Regions from separate parts of the Homo sapiens genome. Here region 2 is linked to region 1. Evidence: fine-mapped QTL for protein levels in blood plasma. A gene starts in region 1. The other region holds a variant in brackets. All regions are shown on one strand. Distances are between the middles of the regions. Region 1 holds the start of INHBC (inhibin subunit beta C). Region 2 overlaps INHBC (inhibin subunit beta C).

What was found. A credible set is the group of variants that fine-mapping cannot tell apart. PIP is the chance, under the fine-mapping model, that this variant and not a neighbour inherited with it causes the effect. Protein levels are from antibody-based Olink assays in UK Biobank. Linkage for the fine-mapping came from a reference panel and not from the study's own genotypes, which makes the PIPs less certain.
Region 2: its variant is the best candidate, but not a certain one, in a credible set for the plasma level of the INHBC protein (UK Biobank, PIP 0.78).

The regions. Positions count from the first base shown.
Region 1 is chr12:57,431,267-57,442,542 of GRCh38, forward strand. INHBC (inhibin subunit beta C) reads left to right here and starts at 3,518. Exons shown (of 2, transcript NM_005538.4): 1 at 3,518-3,933. The coding sequence starts at 3,621. R3HDM2-DT (R3HDM2 divergent transcript) reads left to right here. Exons shown (of 2, transcript NR_185976.1): 1 at 1-164; 2 at 2,437-2,669.
Region 2 is chr12:57,443,802-57,455,185 of GRCh38, forward strand. It overlaps INHBC (inhibin subunit beta C), which reads left to right. Exons shown (of 2, transcript NM_005538.4): 2 at 5,476-8,261. The coding sequence ends at 6,221. Among named protein-coding and RNA genes, the nearest start is that of INHBE, 5.8 kb to the right of the region's middle. RefSeq lists an enhancer at 11,185-11,384. The variant C/T (reference allele first, on the strand shown) is at 6,465.

The sequences.
Region 1 (11,276 bases):
CAAGTCTGTCAGATAGAATACCCTGGATTTCAATATAATACTAATAGTGATCATTCTAAAGTAATTTCCATTTACAGAGCACTTTCACTTAGGGCAGTAACTCCTGTACCAAAAGAACGTACACTCGGTATTTGTTGCATACGTGGATAACTATAGTTGAGCAGGTAAATGTCCATTTTACGTAAAGATGAAAAAAACCGACCTAGGAGGAACTCAGTCTGTCCTATTAAGATCACATTCTTACCATCATCCCCTCTCTAAGATACAGTTCTCAAAAATCGTCTTAAATGTCCAGCCTCCCCCGTTTTGTCCATTCTAGGCAGAATCAATTTAGTTATTGATTATGTGTGTGTGGATAATTTACTGACCAAACTCCCTCAAAGAAGCAATGTAGTCTTTTGTAGAATTCGACCATTAAATATTTACCTTGTGACAGAAACTGCGGTAGGCAAAAAAAGTCAAATAATTATAGTACAATTTAAGTGCTATAATAGAAAGGTTTAAATGTGCTATGGAAACACAAGGAACAGCAATTCGTTCTTAGCGGTAAAAGAGATTGAGTAAGTTACAGAGAAACTACAGGTGAAACTCCAGCTAATCTTGAGACTATAAATAGTTCACTAGAGAGGTAAGAATGGAGATTCCAGCAAAGTCATAGAGGCATGAAGTTCATCTTTCCTTCAAGGATGAGCAAGTTCCAGGTTGGTTGGCGTTTTTTGTTTGTTTGTTTGTTTGTTTTATTTATTTTGAGATGGGGTCTCGCTTTGTCACCCAGGCAACTAGATTGCAGTGGTGCAATGTCGGTTCACTACAACCTTCACCTCTCAGGTTCAAGTGATTCTCCTGCCTCAGCGTCCGGAGTAGCTGGGACTACAGGCACGCACCATCACACCCGGCTATTTTTTGTATTTTTAGTAGAGACGGGGTTTTGCCATGTTGGCCAGGCTAATCTCGAACTCCTGGCCTCAGGTGATCCACCCGCCTCGGCCTTCCAAAGTTCTGGGATTACAGGTGTGAGCCACCTTGCCCAGCCCTCTCTCCTGGTCATCACTGCCTCCTGCCCCCAAATTCTCTCAACCCTCTAGAGAACAACAACGGGGGAAGAAAAATACAACTGAACTGAACTGATCTAACCTGCCACTTTTCACCACGATTTAAACTTTTTGTCTTGGCCGGGCGCAGTGGCTCACACCTAGCACTTTGGGAGGCCAAGGCAGGTGGATCATTTGAGCTCAGGAGTTCCAGACCAGGCAGTGATGACCAGTAGGAAATAATAGCTAATATTTGTATTATGTGTATGTAAGTACAATATAAAATGTGTAGCATTCTACATCTATTGTTAGTATCAAATCCTCAATACAATAGGTACTATTATTATACCTGTTTTATAGATGAGGAAACCTGAGGCACAATAATGAAACCAAAGTTCCAGATTTTTTTTTATTTTTTTTGAGACGGAGTCTTGCTCTGTCGCCCAGGCTGGAGTGCAGTGGCATGATCTCAGCTCACTGCAACCTCCACCTCCCGGGTTCAAGTGATTCTCCTGCCTCAGCCTCTCAGGTAGCTGGGACTACAGGCATGTGCCACCACGCCCGGCTTATTTTTATTTTATTTATTTTTTTATTTTTCTTTGGTATTTTTAGTACAGATGGGGTATCACCATGCTGGCCAGGCTCGTCTCGAACTCCTGACCTCAAGTGAACTGCCCACTTCAGCCTCCCAAAGTGCTGGAATTACAGACGTGAGCCATCACGCCCAGCCTACAAGCACATTTTTAAGGGCAAAAAAGAAGGAGACAGGGAGTAGACTGATACAAAGTTGTCGGGTATTCTTGTTGGTTTACAGAAATAACATTGATTAGTGATTGGCTATAGATTGTTAAGCTATAGGATCTAGGTTATAGTGTCCAGTGCAGCATTATTATGTTAATTTATAGTTACTTGTGGCAATAGCAAGCAATTTCAAGAGATGAATACATAGCTCAAAAGCAGGAAGTAGGACATGATTGCCCTCTCATTTTATTTATTTATTTTTTATTTATTTTTTTGAGACAGGCTCTCACTCTATTTCCCAGGCAGGTGTGCAGCAGTACAATTACAGCTCACTGCACCTTCAACCTCCTGGGCTCAAATGATCCTCCAGTCTCAGCCTCCTGAGTAGCTGGGACTACAGGAACACACCACCACTCCCAGCTTTTTTTAAATTTTATTTTATTTATTTATTTTTTATTTTAGTATGGATAGGGTCTGGCTATGTTGCCCAGTCTGGTCTTGAACTCGTGAGTTCAAATGATTTGCCCGCTTTGGCCTCCTAAAGTGCTGGGATTATAGGCTTGAGCCGCCATGCCTGGTCTGCTGTCTCATTTTAATGTCTCTCTGAGCCTGATAATCTTCAAAGACTTGCATTTCCCAGATTAAAATTGTTTTATTTTCTCAGTGCCATGACACAGAATGAAAGCCTGAAATGTTTCTGAGACAAGTGCAAGAACTGAAGAACAACAACCAAGAATACCTGGATTTAAAACCTATACTCCTGGCCAGGCACGGTGGCTCACGCCTGTAATCCCAGCATGTTGGGAGGCCGAGGCGGGTGGATCACAAGGTCAGGAGTTCAAGACCAGCCTGAACAACATGGTGAAACCCCGTCTCTACTAAAAATACAAAAATTAACCAGGCATGGTGGCACGCACCTGTAATCCCAGCTACTTAGGAGGCTGAGGCAGGAGAACTGCTAGAACCCGGGAGGCAGAGGTTGCAGTGAGCTGAAATTATGCCACTGCACTCCAGCCTGGGCGACAGAGTGAGACGCCATCTCAAAAGAAAAAAAAAAAAAGGGAATCTCAAAACTTCTTTTCCAAGACAGAAAAAAACCCCAAAGGGTGAGCAAATCTGGAACTCAAGCCCTTTCCCCACCTTAGGAGTTCCCTCTGAGAGCATCAAAGACATGGCTAGAACACTGTGCCTCCCTTCCCTTAACCTTCAGACTTCATAGTTTTGAGACCTCTTGGGCAAAACTCAACCAGGGCTAACAAATAAGGCTGGATTGAGAACCCCAGGAGGGAGGATGGAGGGATGGGGATGGGCTTTGAGAAACACCAGGCAAAAAAGAATGCAACTCTCAATTGTTCATGCGTGACAGTGAGCTAAAGTGCCTTGCCAATGACCCCTTCTTGTTTGAGAGTCTCCCTTTAACATTCTTTCCCAAAACCTGTGATCTGTCCCTTTCCACCATCCCCAGGATTCCCAGCAAGGGTAGAGATCTGAGGAGGAATTTAATCTCTCACCTTTGAACCCCAGGCCTGGCAGCTCACATGGATAACAACTGTCTCCCAACATTGGCCCAGGGACGTGTCTTTCCCTAAACAAACCAACCTCTCCTCACATCCCCCACTCTGTACTTTCACTGACTATGCGTTGGCAGATTCTGCCAAGTTCTACCTGTAACTGGCTTCATTTTCAAGTCAGACGTTTGGCTGCTGCTCTGTCCCCTGCAACAAGGAGCCATGCCAGCTGGACACACACTTCTTCCAGGGCCTCTGGCAGCCAGGACAGAGTTGAGACCACAGCTGTTGAGACCCTGAGCCCTGAGTCTGTATTGCTCAAGAAGGGCCTTCCCCAGCAATGACCTCCTCATTGCTTCTGGCCTTTCTCCTCCTGGCTCCAACCACAGTGGCCACTCCCAGAGCTGGCGGTCAGTGTCCAGCATGTGGGGGGCCCACCTTGGAACTGGAGAGCCAGCGGGAGCTGCTTCTTGATCTGGCCAAGAGAAGCATCTTGGACAAGCTGCACCTCACCCAGCGCCCAACACTGAACCGCCCTGTGTCCAGAGCTGCTTTGAGGACTGCACTGCAGCACCTCCACGGGGTCCCACAGGGGGCACTTCTAGAGGACAACAGGGAACAGGAATGTGAAATCATCAGCTTTGCTGAGACAGGTGGGTTCCTGATCTGTAGCTCTTCCCCAGAACTTGACCCCTCAAGGAAAGGAAAAGTTTCCTCGCCAGACTTACCTCTGACTCCTTCCCCAAAAACCATCCAACCCCTGCTTCCCACAGGCTATAATCTCCTTACCCAGGTGTCCCGACAACCCCCACATCCCTCTGGGGTCACTCTGGTAGCTCAGACCTGACCAATAGGCAGCTGGAAAGCTGGTAAATTTCACTTCTTTTGAGATTGGCTGCCGTCATCTCCTCCGGCTCCTCTCTCTGCAGGCCCCACAAACCCACAGGCTGTGGTGTGAGCCCATCCACTTCCTGGGCCTGTACACAGCGACTGGGAGGTGGGAGTCTCTCCTTTCTCTGGCCCCAGGATCTAGCCCCTCCCTTCCCCTCTCCTCCAGATGCCTCATTTGAGTAAAAGAAGAAAAAATAAAACACCAGGACTGCAATACCTCACCATATGTCATGTTCCCATATATACCTCAGGTCCCCATATCACAGAGAACAGGGTCAAAATGGGACTCAGAAAGATGGATAAAGGGGCTGGGCACAGTGGCTCCTGCCTGTAATCCCAGCTACTCAGAAGGCAGGAGGATCACTTGAAGCCAGGAGTTCGAGACCAGCCTGAGCAACATAGCAAGACCCTTTTTTTTTTTTTTCCTGAGACGGAGTCTTGCTCTGTCACCCAGGCTGGAGTGCAGTGGCGTGATCTCGGCTCACTGCAACCTCCACCTCCTGAGTTCAAGGAATTCTCCTGCCCCAGCCTCTTGAGTAGCCAGGATTACAGGTGCCCGCCACCACACCCAGCTAATTTTTGTATTTTTAGTAGAGACTGGGTTTCACCGTGTTGGCCAAGCCGATCTCAAACTCCTGACCTCGTGATCCTCCCACCTCAGCCTCCCAAAGTGCTGGGATTACAGGCGTGAGCCACCGCGCCCGGCAACCCTGTCTCTTTTTTAAAAAACTTTTTTTTTTTTTTTTTGAAAGAGTCTCACTCTGTCACCCAGGCTGGAGTGCAATGGCATGGTCTCAGGTCACTGCAACCTCTGCCTCCTGGGTTCAAGCAGTTCTCCCACCTCAGCCTCCCGAGTAGCTGGGACTACAGGCGTGTGTCACCATACCCGGCTAATTTTTGTATTTTTAGTAGAGATGGGATTTCACTATGTTGGCCACGCTGGTCTCGAACTCCTGACCTCGTGATCCGCCTGCCTCGGCCTCCCAAAGTGCTGGGATTACAAGTGTGAGCCACTGTGCCTGGCCTTTTCTTTTTCTTTTTTTTTTTTTTTTTTTGAGACAGAGTCTTCATCTGTCACCCAGGCTGGAATGCAGTGGTATGATCACAGCTCATTGCAGCCTCAACCTCCCAGGCTCAAGCTCAGGTGATCCTCCCACCTCAGCCTCCCAAGTAGCTGGGACTACAGGTATGCGCCATCATGCCTGGCTAATTTTTTTTATTTTTTATTTTATTTTATTTTATTTTTTGAAATGGAGTCTCGCTTTGTCACCCAGGCTGGAGTGCAGTGGCGCGATCTTGGCTCACTGCAAGCTCCACCTCCTGGGTTCACGCCATTCTCCTGCCTCAGCCTCCCGAGTAGCTGGGGCTACAGGCGCCTACCACCATGCCTGGCTACTTTTTATGTATTTTTAGCAGAGACAGGGTTTCACCGTGTTAGCCAGGATGATCTCGATCTCCTGACCTCGTGATCCTCCTGCCTCGCCCTCCCAAAGTGCTGGGATTACAGGTGTGAGCCACCGCGCCCAGCATATATTTTTTTACAGAGACAAGATTTCATCATGTTGCCCAGATTGGTCTTGAACTTTTGGGCTCAAGCAATCCACTCGCCTCGGCCTTGCAAAATGCTAAGATTACAGACATGAGCCACCATCCCCGGGCTAAAAATAGCTGGGTGCGGTGGAGTGCACCTGCAGTCCCAGCTATTTGGGAGCCTGAGATGGCGGATCATTGAGCCCAGGAGTTTGAGACTGCACTGAGCTGTTTGCACCACTGCCCTCCAGCCTGGGCAACAGAGTGAGACCCCCATCTCTAAAATTAATTAATTAAAGAAAGATAGATAAAAGAGGACAAGGAAGAGAGATAGTTACTTCCATAGACAGGGGAATAGTTGGAGTATATAGTGAGCAGATCAGGAATTCTAAGCCAGGACTCTAGAAAATGCAAATTGAAGGCCGGGCGCGGTGGCTCACGCCTGTAATCCTAGCACTTTGGGAGGCCAAGTCGCGCAGATCACAAGGTCAGGAGATCGAGACCATCCTGGCTAACATGGTGAAACCCCGTCTCTACTAAAAATACAAAAAAAATTAGCTGGGCATGGTGGCAGGCGCCTGTAGTCCCAGCTACTCTGGAGGCTGAGGCAGGAGAATGGCATGGACCCAGGAGGTGGAGCTAGCAGTGAGCCGAGATTGCGCCACTGCACTCCAGCCTGGGGGACAGAGTGACACTCCGTCTCAAAAAAAAAAAAAAAGAAAGAAAGAAAATGCCAATTGAGCCCTTTGCAAGCTTTTTCTTAGGTCTGGAAGACCCTTCCCATTTCTGGCCCCTCATTCCCTCGTTTTTGTGTTTGTTTGTTTGTTTGTTTGTTTGAGATGGAGTCTCATTCTGTTGCCCAGGCTGGAGTGCAGTGGCACAATCTCAGCTCACTGCAACCCCCGCCTCCCGGGTTCAAGCCATTCTCCTGCCTCAGCCTCCCGAGTATCTGGAACTACAGGCGAACACCACTAAACCTGGCTAATTTTTGTATTTTTAGTAGAGACGGGGTTTCACCATGTTGGCCAGGCTGGTCTCGAACTCCTGACCCCAAGTGATCTGCTCGCCTCAGCCTCCCAAAGTGCCAGGATTACAGGCGTGAGCCACTGCACCCACCCCTACCTGTTTCAAGACCCTGCTTGAACTGGAGCTAGATAGCCTGGGCTCAGATTCTTGCTCAGCCATTTATTAGCTGTTTGACCTAGTGGTTAATAGTTTTCTCATGTGTTAAATGGGGATAATAAGAGGATAGTTGAGATAATTAAATGGGCTAATACAGGTAAAGTACTTTGAATGTTAAAGTGGAAGGGAGCAGGAACTAGAGAGTAGACTTAGTGCCTGCCCATGGAGGAAAGGGACAAGGCAAATCTCTGGAAACTTTTTATAAAGGCACTAATTCTATTAATGAGGGCTCCACCCTCATTACTTAATCACCTCCCAAAGGCTCCACTTCCTAATACCATCACATGGGGGTTATGATTTCAACATATGAATTTTGAGGGAATGTAACAGCCTCTCTCCATGAAGCCTCTTATCATTCAATAGTCTATCCCAAGTTTCTTTAGAGAATGGTGGCCAGATTCCAAGAGGATAATTTCAATGTGTAAATTATTCTCAAACTTCTACATACACCCTGCTTGCTAATGTCCCATTGACAAAGCAAGTCATTGTAGCCAAGCCTAGAATCTATCACTGTGAGATGGAACTAGACGAAGGCATGAAAGCCATGAGGTAGTGTTTACTGGGGACTACCAATCTAGCAGCCTACTAAAGTCTGCCCTCTGACCCCTAACAATTTATATCTCTCCCACAAGCAAAATACAATCATCCTCTCCCAGCTACCCACATCAAAATTTCATCCCTTTATGGCATCAGGATCGGGCTAAAGTTCAGCATCTCATCACCTGAATTAGGTGCAAATATAGGTGAGGCTCCTCTGGTACATTTCTTCAGGTGCAGGGGCCTTCAGTGATGTCCTAGCGCTGGCTTATTCAGACTTATGAAAGCTGATTGTGAACATCTTCTCCCAACTCAGCATTCAGTGATGTCACATTAGCAGCTAGAAATCAGCCATGGTGGGCGAATTTGTAGTCTTATAGAAATTGACAAAGACTACAAATCAGGGCTTTTGATTTTTTTCCCTGGAGACCAGTTATTAAACATTTACCAGCATACCACTGTCTGCGTCCTAAAAATACAAGTTCTCTACCTCCCACGCACTTAACATACAATGCTGAGACAGGGACAGGATAAACATAATAGATATTCCTGTTCAAAATGGGGTATGGGAGAATAGGAGACACAGAGCAGTCACTGATCCATAAAACTTCTTATATTCAGCCAGGCAAATATCTAGGTCCACTCCAAACCCAGAATTCCCTTGGTTAGTTAGGGCCTGGTTCTGCTCCCTGGTATTTCCCATTGCTCACCACTGCTCTCCTGGACTTCCAAATCCACCCTCTCAGCCCTTGGCCTCTACCTGCTGAGGTGTCTTTCCTTTTAAATAGGAAATAATCTGTGTTTGTGGCTGAGTAGTTTTCTCAGCCTACTTTCTGCCCAGAGTTGGGGGCCCAGAGACCCCTTTTTATTTTGAATTGTCCCTTTTAGTCCAAACTGGTGCTGCTTTCAGTATTAAACTTCTCTTTAAAACTCTGTGGACCCTGTAAATAATAAATTGTAGTCTACTCAGTTACACAGAAGGCACCACATTCTATCAAGACAGACACTTCTTTAGGCTACAAGTCTGTGTCATGGGATGACACCTTTAAGATGTTTAGAAGTGCATTTGTCTAGTTGTGAGGGTTGACAGAACATCGTCTTAAATTTTAGATCTCAAAAAAAAATGTTAGATCTTAACAAGCAAAGCGTTTTTTTGGTTTGTGTTTTAGAGTTGGTCTTGCTATGTTGCCCAGGCTGGAGTATAGTGGCTATTTGCAGCCTCAATAATATTGCCTTATAGCCTCAAACTCCTGGCCTCAAGGGATCCTCCTGCTTCAGCGTCCTGAGTAGCTGGGGCTATAGGCATGTGTTCCCATGACCAGCTAACAAAAGGTTTTATAGCTGACCCTTTATTTGTTTTGATCTTCACTCTGAGTCCCTGTATTACTGGAAATGCCCTGGATTTGATTTTTGCCCTGAGGTAATTTCTTACTTTAAGAACCTTTTGTCAGAGAGAAAGAATGAAAAAGAATTTTTGTCATTATTTTTCTTTTCTTTCCTCTACATGTACAACATGAAGTAAAAGGTTTTGTTTTGTTTTGTTTTCTGAAAAATTAGCAACATAGAGTAAGCGGTTCTATTTTTTAATTTAGCAAGTCCTTTTAGAAATATTTTCTCTAAATTCTGTTTGAAAATTGAACAGTGCCTTTTTTTTTTTTTTTTTTTGAGACGGAGTCTTGCTATGTCGCCAGGCTGGAGTGCAGTGGTGCAATTTTGGCTCACTGCAACCTCTGCCTCCCGGGTTCAAGCGATTCTTTTGCCTCAGCCTCCTGAGTAGCTGGGACTACAGGTGCACACCACCACACCCAGCTAATTTTCGTATTTTTAGTAGAGATGGGTTTTCAGCATGTTAGCTCGGATGGTCTTGATTTCTTGACCTTGTGATCTGCCCGCCTCAGCCTCCCAAAGTGCTGGGATTACAGGTGTTAGCCACCGCACCCAGCCACAGTTCCTTTTTTAGTTCATCTCTCTCCCGAAATGCCTTATCGTAGGCAACTAAAATATACCAACTGGCATTTTCAGCATTCTGCCTGGAAATATCATTAGCTAAATTCACAACTTTGTTAGATATCTTTCCTGGCTTCTAAGTTACCACAGGTGATAGCCAATACACAATACAAGTTCCCCTTTCTTCAGCTTCCAATAGCAATTTCCTCACTGTTCTTCCTTCCTTTACTAACAGTTTCTTCCCTACCCTTCTAACTTCTGCCTGCCACTCATTCCCGAAGCCGGTGCAACTGACCAAGCACAGTGGCTCATGCTTGTAATCCCAACACTTTGGGAGGCCAGGGTGGGAGGATCACTTGAGGCCAGGAGTTTGAGACCACCCTGGTCAATATAGCAAGATGTTTCTTTAAAACAAACAAACAAACAAACAAAACAAAAAGCCGGGTGCTGTGGCTCACGCCTGTAATCCCAGCACTTTGGGAGGCCAAAACGGGTGGATCACCTGAGGTCAGGAGTTCGAGATCAGCCTGACCAACATGGAGAAACCCATCTCTACCAAAAATACAAAAAATTAGCCAGGTGTGGTGGTGCATGTCTGTAATCCCAGCTACCCGGGAGGCTGAGGCAAGAGAATTGCTTGAACCCAGGGGGTGGAGGTTGCAGTGAGCCGAGTTCGTGCCATTGCACTCCAGCCTGGGCAACAAGAGTGAAATTCCATCTCAAAAAAAAAAAAAAAAAAAAAAAAGCCAGGTGTGGTGGTACATGCCTGTAATCCCAGCTACTGGGGAGGCTGAGGCAGGAGAATTGCTTGAACCCAGGAGGCAGAGGTTGCAGTGAGCCAAGATCACGTCATTGCACTTCAGCCTGGGCAATAAGATCAAAACTCCGTCTCAAAAAAAAAAAAAAAAAAAGTCAATGCAACATATTTTAGGTTTTTGTGATGGTAGCACCCCACTTCTGATACTAATTTTTGTTTCAGTTACTTATCAATATAACAAACCAGCCCAAAACATAGAGGCTTAAAACAACACATTCATTATTTCTCATGATTCTTTTTTTTTTTTTTTAGATGGAGTCTCACTCTGTTGCCCAGGCTGGAGTGCAGTGGCACAGTCTTGGGTCACTGCAACCTCCATCTCCAGGGTTCAAGAGATTCTCTTCCCTCAGCCTCCTGAGTAGTTGGGATTATAGGTGCCCGCCACCATGCCTGGCTTTTTTTGTATTTTTAGTAGAGACAGGGTTTCACCATGTTGGACAGGCTGGTCTTGAACTCCTGACTTCAAGTGATCCACCCACCTCAGCCTCCCAAAGTGCTGGGATTACAAGCATGAGCCATTGCCCCCAGCCACTCTCATGGTTTTGTGGCTTGACTGTGCTTATCTGGACAGTTCTTCTGCTCCATGTGGTGTAGCTGAGGTCTCCCATGCAACTTCATTTGGGGACTCAGATGGGACTGGAACATATAAGATGGTCTCTAATCCTCCAAAGTCTCTCTCCACATGACTTCTCCTAATTTAGTAGTCTAGCTCAACTTCCTTTAAAGCACTGCGGCTGGCTTCCAAGAGTGGAATGCCTCAATATGTAAGTACTCAATAAACACCATGCTTGCTAATGTCTCACTGCCCAAATCAAGTCACATGGCTAAGCCCAGAATTAATATGGAAAGGGACAGCACAAAGTCATGAATACTGGGAGGTGTTGGCCTTTGGGGCCAACAGTGTAATAGTCTACTACAGCCCCTGTTGGTCTTGTGTTTGCCTGCCATAACTGGAGTGACTTAAAAGGTACTAACTATAGGGTGCTTTGTGACCTAGCAAGGAAAAGATTAGTTGGGCCAGTCAGACTCTTTTAGGATTTTGGAATTGGGACACTGGAAGATCTGCTCACTTAGGAGGAGCTGAGCAAAAGG
Region 2 (11,384 bases), 13 kb after region 1:
TTTTTGAGACAGAGTCTGGCTCTGTCACCCAGGCTGGAGTGCAGTGGCGTGATCTCTGCTCACTGCAACCTTTGCCTCCTGAGTTCAAGCAATTCTCCTGCCTCAGCCTCCTGAGTAGCTGGGACTACAGGTGCATGCCACCACACTCGGCTAATTTTTGTATGTTTAGTAGAAATGGGGTTTCACCCTGTTGGCCAGGCTGATCTCGAATTCATGACCTCATGACCTCAGGTGATCCTCCCATCTCAGCCTCCCAAAGTGCAGGGATTACAGGTGTGAGCCACCACACCTGGTCTCAACAAGTGTTTATTGAGTGCTTACTAAATACCAAGTACTAGGGATACAATGGTGAGCCATACAGGCACAACCGCTGTTTTCATGGAGCTTACATTCTAGCTGCAGGGAAGAAAGAGGGGTAGGAGAAATACGTAGTAAACAAATGAACGAAGAACCACACTGGACCGGACTTGGTGGCTCATGCCTGTAATCCCAGCACTTTGGGAGGCCGAGGTAGGAGGATCACAAGGTCAGGAGTTCCGGAGCGGCCTGGCCAACATGGCAAAACTCCGTCTCTACTAAAAATACAAAAATTAGCAGGGCATGGTGGTGCATGCCTGTAATCCCAGCTACTCAGGAGGCTGAGGCAGGAGAATTGCTTGAACCGGGTAGGTGGAGGTTGCAGTGAGCCAAGATCGTACCACTGCAATCTAGCCTGGGTGACAGAGCAAGACTCTGTCTCAGAAAAAAAAAAAAAAAGAACCACACTGATTACAGAGCATGATAATGGCTATACAAACAGTTAAGCAGGATGATGTATTAGAGAGATGGAGGCAGAATTGAAGGCTATTTTTATTTTATTTTATTTTATTACGTTTTATTCTATTTTATTTCATTTTTGAGACAGCCTTGCTCTGTTGCCCAGGCTAGAGTGCAGTGGCATGATCTTGGCTCATTGCAGCTTTGACCTCCTGGGCTCAAGTGATTCTCCCGAGTAGCTGGGATTACAGATGTGTTCCTCCATGCCCAGCTATTTTTTATTTATTTATATATTTTTTAGTTATTGTAGAGACAGGGTCTCACTATGTTGCCCAGTCGGTCTCAAACTCCTGGCCTCAAGCAATCCTGCCACCTTGACCTCCCATAGTGCTGCGATTACAGGCATGTGCCACCACGCCTGGCTGAAGCCTGCTTTAGATAGATTAGGAAGGAAGCCTGAAGCCTCTCTGAGGAGGAGACATCTGAGCCGAATGCCAAAAAGAACTCAGTCATTCAAAGATCTTGGAAAGACATTCCAGGGAAAGAGACTAGCAAGTGTAAAGGCTATGAGATAGCTTTATGTTTGGTGAATTTGAGGAACAGAAAAAGGCCAGTATAGGCAGGGTGTAGTAGTTAAGTGTCAAACAAGTTTCCTATTTCAAGGAGTTTAGATTTTATCCAAAGAGCAAGGGGAAGACTTTGAAGTGTTTTAAGCTGAGAAGATAAAACTAATCAGATTTATAAAAAGATCACTGGCTGATATTTGGAGAATGGTTTGGAGAGCAAGAGTGAATCACTTGAGTGAACGAAAGCTACAGTTAAAGAAAAAGATGGTTGTGAGTTGGACTAATGAGTAGTAGAGGAAGTGGGGAGAAGTGAAATTATATTATGAATTAGAAGTAGAGTTGATAAAACTTTCAGATAATTTCAAAGTAGAGGATAAACACAATCAAGATTTTGCCTTAAGCAATGCGTTTATGGGGAGAAGTTTGGAGAAGGAACAGGTTTGGACTGGGGGGATACATTTAGACTTCCTTGTACAGGATTGAGGCTGGGCACATTGACTTATGCCTGTGATCTCAGCACTTTGGGAGGCCAAGGTGAGAGGATCACTTAAGGCCAGGAGTTCAAGACCAGTCTGGGTAACATAGTGAGACCCCCCGCCCATCTCCATGTAAATTTTTTTTTTTTTTTTTTTTTGGAGACAGAATCTCGCTCTGTCATCCAGGCTAGAGTGCAATGCAATGGCATGATCTCGGCTCACTGCAACCTCTGCCTCGCAGGTTCAAGTGATTCTCCTGCCTCAGCCTCCCAAGTAGCTGGGATTACAGGTGCCCGCAGCATGCCTGGCTAATTTTTGGTGGTTTTTTTGTTTGTTTGTTTGTTCGTTTTTTTGAGACAGAGTCTCGCTGTGTTGCCCAGGGTGGAGTGCAGTGGCGCGATGTCAGCTCACTGCAACCTCTGTCTCCTGGGTTCAAGCAATTCTCCTGCCTCAGCCTCCCGAGTAGCTGGGATTACAGGCATGTGCCAACATGCCTGGCTGATTTTTTGTAATTTTAGTAGAGACAGGGTTTCACCATGTTGGCCAGGTTGGTCTCGAACTCCTGACCTCAACTGATCCACCTGCCTCTGCCTCCCAAAGTGCTGGGATTACAGGCGTGAGCCACCACACCCGGCCTAAAAATTTTTTTTTAATTAAAAAAAGAGATTGAAATATCATTGGATGTCCAAGTCAAATATCAGATAGCCACTTGGACATACAAGGCTGGGGCTCAGGGAGAGGTCAGGACCAGATATATATATTTGGAAGTCATCAGCATATAGATGGAATTGAAAGCCATGGAATGGATGATCATTCTGGGAGAGGGTATAGATAGTGAAGAGAAGGGAGCTTAGGACTTTATTTATTTATTTATTTATTTATTTATTTATTTATTTATTTATTTATTTATTTGAGACAGGGTCTCATTTTGTTGCCCAGCCTGGAGTGCAGTGGTGCGTTGATGTCTCACTATAGCCTTGATCTCCCAGGGTCAAGCAATCCTTCCACCTTAGCCCTCCGTAGTAGCTGGGACTACAGGTGTACACTAGTACGCCTGGGTAATTTTGTAATTTTTGTAGAGACAGGGTTTTGCCAAGTTGTCCAGGCTGATCTCACTGATCTCAAACTCCTGGACTCAAGCCATGCATCCACCTCAGTCTCCCAAAGTTCTGGGACAAGTGTGAGCCACCACGCCTGGCCTGACTTCCAACATTTAAAGGTTGGGCCGACAAAGAGGAGCTGTCGATAGAGGAGAAAAAGATAGAGTGGCCACTGTTATAAAAGCCAAGAGAAGAAAATATGGAAGAAGGAGGGAGTGGTTAACTGTGTCAAACACTGCTTAAAGGTCAAGTAAGATGAATACAAATGGTTAGATTTGCTTTGTGGAAGGTGTTGGTGATCTTGACGTGTGCAATTTCAGTAGAGTGGAGGGAATAGAAACCCAACTAAGATGTTCAGTAAGGAAGGTGAGGGATGATAAGAGGAAATTGGGCAGTAGTAATAGGGATACAAAGAAATGCACAGACATTAGAACCATTCTGGTGAGACAAGGTATAGGGGGAATGAAGAAAGTAATCATAGTTTGTTTTTTTTTTCTTTTTTTGAGGCGGAGCCTCGCTCTGTCTCTCAGGATGGAGTGCAATGGTGTGGTCTTGGCTCATTGCAACCTCTGCCTCCCAAGTTCAAGCGATTCTCCTGCCTCAGCCTCCCAAGTAGCTGGGATTACAGGCGCCCACTGCCACGCCTGGCTGATTTTTGTATTTTTAGTAGAGATGGGGTTTCACCATGTTGGCCAGGCTTGTCTCAAACTCCTGACCTAAGGTGATCCACCTGCCTCAGCCTCCCAAAGTGCTGGGATTACAGACGTGAGCCACCACGCCTAGCTGATCATAGAGTTTTTACAGGTGATGAGGGTAGTGGCACCACCAAGAATGAAGAGGGGGTATATAGGAAGGAAAGTAATTATTTTTCAGGTTGAAAAAATTGATTAAAAAAAATATATAGGCCAGGCGCGGTGGCTTACGCCTGTAATCCCAGCGCTTTGGGAGGCTAAGCAGGGCGAATCACTTGAGGTGAGGAGTTCAAGACCAGCCTGACCAACATGGAGAAACCCTGTCTCTACTAAAAATACAAAATTAGCTGGGTGCAGCTACTTGGGAGGCTGAGGCAGGAGAATTGCTTGAACCCGAGAGGCAGCGGTTGCAGTGAGCTGAGATTGCGCCATTGCACTCCAGCCTGGGCAACAGGAACAAAACTCCGTCTCAAAAAAAAAAAAAAAAAAAAAAAAAAAAAAATATATATATATATATATATATATATATATAAAATATATGTGTGTGTGCTTGTGTTTGTATATATGTATGCATACATATATACATATATATACACACATGCATACACACATATGTATTTATAAGATGGGGTCTTGCCATGTTGCCTGGGCTGGTCTTGGGCATGTTGCCTCAGTCTCCCAAGTAGCTGGGATTACAGGCATGCACTACTCCACCCAGCTCTGGGACAAATTGATTTTAATGTGCTGCCAGGACATTCATGTGACAAAAGTAAGTAGTTAGAAATCTAGGCCTGAAGCTTGGTGATTTCCAAATCTATATGTCCGGTCCAAATATGCAAAATGCTCTGGTCTGGGCATACAGATTTGGGAATCACCAACATAAAAATTGTGTTGCTTGGCTGGGCGTGGTGGCTCACGCCTGTAATCCCAGCACTTTGGGAGACTGAGGTGAGTGGATCACAAGGTCAGGAGTTCAAGACCAGCCTGGCCAACATGGTGAAACCCCATCTCTACTAAAAATACAAAAATTAACTGGGAGTGGTGGCAGGCACCTGTAATCCCAGCTATTCAGGAGGCTGAGGCAGAAGAATCACTTGAACCCAGGAGGCAGAGGTTGCAGTGAGCCAACCTCACGCCACTGCACTCCAGCCTAGGTGACAGAATGAGACTCCGTCTAAAAAAAAAAAAAAAAAAAAAAATTATGTTGCTTGACCATGAGTCTAATTAAGAGCTCCCTTAATGTAGACTAGAAGGAAATGAAAGTCCAAGACAGACCTTGGAAAACTCTGATATTAAAGGGATGGTCAGAGAAAGAAAAGCCAGCAAAGAAAACCAGGAAGAATTATAACAGAGTTGTGTCATGGAAGCCAAGAGAGAAAAGATTTTCAGGAAGGAAAGAATTGTCAGCAGTGCTGTCTTAGTCCGTTTTGTGCTGGTGTAACAGAATACCACAGACTAGGTCATTTATAATGAGCAGAAATATATTAACTCATGGTTCTGGTGGCTGGGAAGTCCAAGATCAAGGGGCTGGCATCTGGCGAGGGCCTTCTTGCTTCTTGCTGTGTTATTCCATGGCAGAAGGGCAAAGAGAGGGTGGGGCTGATAATTAAACTTATCCTTTTATAAGGTACCCATTCCCAAGATAAGGGCATTAATCCATTCATGAAGGTGGTATTCCCATGACCCAAACACCTCCCATTAGGCCCCACTTCCCAACACCACTGCATTGGAGGTCCAATTTCCAGCACATGAACTTTGGAGGACATGTTTAAACTGTAGCAAATGCCAAGTGCTATAGACAACTCAAGAATGCTGAGTACAGAGAAATAGTTGGTAGAACTGACAGTCAGAAGGCCGCAATGACTGGGGCTTCTTATGTCCACAGGCCTCTCCACCATCAACCAGACTCGTCTTGATTTTCACTTCTCCTCTGATAGAACTGCTGGTGACAGGGAGGTCCAGCAGGCCAGTCTCATGTTCTTTGTGCAGCTCCCTTCCAATACCACTTGGACCTTGAAAGTGAGAGTCCTTGTGCTGGGTCCACATAATACCAACCTCACCTTGGCTACTCAGTACCTGCTGGAGGTGGATGCCAGTGGCTGGCATCAACTCCCCCTAGGGCCTGAAGCTCAAGCTGCCTGCAGCCAGGGGCACCTGACCCTGGAGCTGGTACTTGAAGGCCAGGTAGCCCAGAGCTCAGTCATCCTGGGTGGAGCTGCCCATAGGCCTTTTGTGGCAGCCCGGGTGAGAGTTGGGGGCAAACACCAGATTCACCGACGAGGCATCGACTGCCAAGGAGGGTCCAGGATGTGCTGTCGACAAGAGTTTTTTGTGGACTTCCGTGAGATTGGCTGGCACGACTGGATCATCCAGCCTGAGGGCTACGCCATGAACTTCTGCATAGGGCAGTGCCCACTACACATAGCAGGCATGCCTGGTATTGCTGCCTCCTTTCACACTGCAGTGCTCAATCTTCTCAAGGCCAACACAGCTGCAGGCACCACTGGAGGGGGCTCATGCTGTGTACCCACGGCCCGGCGCCCCCTGTCTCTGCTCTATTATGACAGGGACAGCAACATTGTCAAGACTGACATACCTGACATGGTAGTAGAGGCCTGTGGGTGCAGTTAGTCTATGTGTGGTATGGGCAGCCCAAGGTTGCATGGGAAAACACGCCCCTACAGAAGTGCACTTCCTTGAGAGGAGGGAATGACCTCATTCTCTGTCCAGAATGTGGACTCCCTCTTCCTGAGCATCTTATGGAAATTACCCCACCTTTGACTTGAAGAAACCTTCATCTAAAGCAAGTCACTGTGCCATCTTCCTGACCACTACCCTCTTTCCTAGGGCATAGTCCATCCCGCTAGTCCATCC[C/T]GCTAGCCCCACTCCAGGGACTCAGACCCATCTCCAACCATGAGCAATGCCATCTGGTTCCCAGGCAAAGACACCCTTAGCTCACCTTTAATAGACCCCATAACCCACTATGCCTTCCTGTCCTTTCTACTCAATGGTCCCCACTCCAAGATGAGTTGACACAACCCCTTCCCCCAATTTTTGTGGATCTCCAGAGAGGCCCTTCTTTGGATTCACCAAAGTTTAGATCACTGCTGCCCAAAATAGAGGCTTACCTACCCCCCTCTTTGTTGTGAGCCCCTGTCCTTCTTAGTTGTCCAGGTGAACTACTAAAGCTCTCTTTGCATACCTTCATCCATTTTTTGTCCTTCTCTGCCTTTCTCTATGCCCTTAAGGGCTGACTTGCCTGAGCTCTATCACCTGAGCTCCCCTGCCCTCTGGCTTCCTGCTGAGGTCAGGGCATTTCTTATCCCTGTTCCCTCTCTGTCTAGGTGTCATGGTTCTGTGTAACTGTGGCTATTCTGTGTCCCTACACTACCTGGCTACCCCCTTCCATGGCCCCAGCTCTGCCTACATTCTGATATAACTGCTTCAACACTAGGGGGTCCTAAAGGCTTTCTATCTTGCTAGTCCCTGGGGCCTCAACATCTCATACTGGTTCCCTTAACTCTGCCTATACCTCTGTAAATAATTCCTTCACTAAGTTCTCTTGATGAAGCAAAAACAGACAGCTGAAAAGTCCTCTATCTCCTACAAGGGCCCTAACTGGCACCCCAGATGACACAGAGCCTGCCTGCTTATGCTGTAGTCTGCCTACTCTGCTGTCTCTTCACATGGTCTCCTCAGAACTGAACTATTGTATCCATCTCACACTTTATGCCTCTTCTTTCTTAGGCACCCCGTCCCTCCATCCTTCCAGAACCATCTTTGAGGTCTCATGGCTAATAAAAACCTAGGCTTTACCTGTTCCCTCTGTAATCCCTCCAAAAGATGAGACAGATCTATGCTTGGTCATCCAGTAAACTGACCAGCTGTGGGCACGCAAGTGTGGGAGGCAGAGGCATGCTCAGAGCTGGCTGCCAGGACCTCTGACTTGCCTTCCTTTCACCCACCCCCAGTGCTCCACCCAGGAGTCCTGCCTGGAAGCTGGAATGGGCAAGGGCTGCTGGAGTGGGACAGGGAGAAGAGGAAGGCCTGGATGAGGAGAGGGTGGCATTTGCTCTGAGACTGGGTCCTTTTTAGACCTTTGCCCGTCCTCCCCCACATCTCCTCCCTTTGGCTGGACAGTCCTGAACCATGAGGTCGATAATGTCTGCAGCCCAAGGCCGAGTTTGCGCAAAACCCATGTGTTCTTTGGTAAACGTGATGTCTGTGTTTGCTCAGTTTATGACCCCCTCCTATGAGGGTAAGAGGTCCCTGAAATAGGAACCCTAGAGGAGAAAGTCTGAAAAGGACTGCCTGGGGGACTGTAAATCTGAGCTTGAGGGCTTCCTGAGCAACCCATGGAAGTTATCCCACCTTTGACTTGAGGAGACCTTCATCTAAGGAGAATCTAAGGAGGCCTTCTGGTGTCTCCCCCACACATCCCCGACCCCCAGATCTAACCTCCTTCCCAATTACAGCTTAGTCTCCAGGGCTAGGACTGGGGTAAAGCAAAGTGAGTCATTCACCTGGGGGGGCTAAATTTTAAGGGGGTGGTGAACAATTTATTAATCAAGATAGGACTTTAATGCAATATTATTTTAAAGTCAAAATTAATGCAAAAAATCCATGATGAACAAAATAGCCTACTTTTAAATAAAAACAGGATCAGCATTATTCCCTTTCTTTTTTGGCTCTGTCTTTTGTAATAAGGGGAGAGAGTGGGTCTGTCTTCTTCTAAACATTTTCTTCTAGAGCTTCCTAGCTCCTACCTCTGGACCCCTTCAGGCTTTTCTCATTTGAGCAAGATAACCACTCCCACTTCTTCTACTTCCTTACCCACCCCCAAGCCTGTCGCTATCCCCCAGCCCCCAACCAGGTTGGTGGTAGGGCAGGCAGTGAGGCAGATGGCTGGGGTATTTATAACCCAGGAGCACTTCTTGGGAAAAGTGACTAAGATGCTAAGAGCGTATTTATAGCTGAGCTCTGACGTAAGTGTCAGTGGGGAGGTAGGGCCAGGCCAGGCACAGCAGCAAGCGGGTGGGAAGAGCTGGAAACTGGGGGCATCTGACAGTGAGGGTGGGGAGAGGTGGGGTCAGTGACTCCTGCAGCCACTTCTTGTCACTTCCCCTGACTGCCTACTGATACCAACAGGTAAGCCGTCTGAGGCACCACCATGGATAGATACCTCCACTTTGCTGACCAATGTTCCAGACCCGAGGGGGTAGAGGGCTGTCATTTCCCAGCCCAACCAACAGAATGGTTGCTGGGAGCTGGGGAGAACACTGGACAGAGCTCTTGAATGTGTTTCAGAGCTTGGGGAGAAATGCAGGGTGGACAGGAGGGTCTAATCGTCTCAGTGCGCCCCCACCCCACTCCACCCCCACCAAAGAGTGCCCTGAGGTTCTAGGAAGAGCCTGGTACATCACCAAGCTCCATTGCCACGTGTTTGTGTGATGAGGTCCAAAACCAAAGGTAGCAGTGATGTGGATCCTGAAGACAGTCTCTCTTCTCTGGCAGTGTGATGGGGAAAGAACAAAGGAACCAGCTTGTCCCTGTCTCTTGTGGGGGAGGCAGCGTCCCCAGAGTGAGAGGTCGAGGGGCACTCCTCATCACTCCATTCCCCAGAGCTGCCCCTTCCCTGTCCCTGGGAAGCTCCAGCCAGCTACAAGCCAGCTGCTGTCCAGAGGCACGGCACTGCCACATGGTGGACACTGGTGGTACTGAGGTCCAGCCTTCCAATTAGGAACCCTGTCGCCTAGATCTAATAGTCTCTCTTGACAGCCCCCATCATCTAAACAGAGGGGAGATGAGCAAAGTGGAGTAAAGACACATTTCCAAATCACACCCACTTCCCCCACAGCTTTCTCCCCATCAAGCTTCTTGGAGAAATTGGGGCATAAGGAGAAAAGCTAGCATGAGGCCCACCTTCATGAATTCAATGTGGAGGGGTCTGGGTCCCCCCCCATTTAAAGCCAGTGAGGACTGGGTGTGGTGGCTCATGTCTATAATCCTAGCGCCTTGGGACGCTGAGGTGAGAGGATCGCTTGAGCCCAGGAGCTTGAGACCACCCTGGGCAACACAGCAAGACCCTGTCTCTACAAAAGAATAAAAAATAAATTAGCCTGTGTGGTGTGGTGTGGTGTGGTTGGTGTGGTGGCACGCACCTGTAGACTTAGCTACTCTGGAAGCTGAGGTGGAAGAATCACTTAACCCAGGAGGTCAAGGCTGCAGTGAGCTGTGATCAGGCCACCACACTCCAGCCTGGATGACAGAGTAAGACCCTGTCTCAAAAACATAAAAAATAAAATAAAAAATAGGTCAGGTGCGGTGGCTCATGCCTGTAATCCCAGCACTTTGGGAGGCCGAGGCGGGCAGATCATGAGGTCGGGAGATGGAGACCATCCTGGCTAACACAGTGAAACCCCGTCTCTACTAAAAATGCAAAAAACTAGCCGGGCGTGGTGGCTGGCACCTGTAGTCCCAGCGACTCGGGAGGCTGAGGCAGAAGAATGGTGTGAACCCGGGAGGTGGAGCTTGCAGTGAGCCGAGATTGTGCCACTGCACTCCAGCCTGGGCGACAGAGCGAGACTCAGCCTCAAAAAATAAAATAAAATAAAATAAAATAAAGACAGTGAGAAAATGTGGTCAGGAGGGCTGAGACTGGGAACCAAGACTGCTGTATTTGCCTTGCTTTGTTGTCAAAAGCTCTTAGAGCTCCCATTTTCTACCCCCATTAACAGGCCTGAAGGGTGGTGCGGTGGCTCACGCCTGTAACCTCAGCACTTTAGGAGGCTGAGGCAAGTGGATTGCTTGAGCCCAGGAGTTCAAGACCAGCCTGGGCAACATAGCGAGACCCTGTCTCTGTGGGAAATTTAAAAATTAGCCAGGTGTGGTGGTGCGCACCTGTAGTCCCAACTACTAAGGAGGCTGAGGCAGAAGGATTGTCTGAGCCCAGGAATTCAAGGCTGCAGTGAGCTATGATTGTGCCACTACACTCCAGCCTGAACAACAGATTGAGACCTTACCTCAGTAAAATAAAATAAAATTTAAATTTTAAAAATGTAAGAAAAAAAGGAGGCCTGGCACTACTTCTAGGATGCCCCAAATTTAGGCAACTCTCACAGTCCCTTGAAAGAGAAGTGGCAGCTGGGTATAGGCCCTCCCAAGTGTCATGCCCCCTGACAGTCCTGATGGACTCTGCCCTGTGTAAGATTGCATCACCACCACCACCACCTCTCTGGGCTTCCCCAGACATCACAGGAACACGTTCCCCGCCCCAACCCCCGCCGGCTCTGGCCCTCCTCCACATCATGCTCCACATCATGCTCCAGGCCAACTGGACTCTGGGCGGCCAGCACAGGCAGGGTCAGGGGGTGACTTCTGTGCCTCGTGGCACTGCCACCTGGGCCTGAGCAAGAGGGCTCCATTCTCCTACCCGCCCAAACCCTCATCCCTGTCCTAGCCCCAGTGCTAGAAATAAAGAGACCAGAATTTTCCTTCTGGCCTAAGGGCCCCAGAGGAATACCCACTGGAACTCACAGCTGCCTCATGGAAACTGCTGCAGCAGTGGTGAAGCTAGAAAGACTAGAGGTATGAGGGAAAATTGCCCTTCCCCACCTGGCTCATAAGGCGTTCCCTCCCCCAAGTCCCAGACCTTGGGGACTGAGCATGTGAAATCATCCTCTTTCTTGCATCATGCGTGTCCACATTGCACCCCCCCACCCCCATACCCCTACTTCAGGCCCAGTCACCATGGCCAGATGGTGAAACCTGAGCTGATGGGGAGGAGGACCTCCA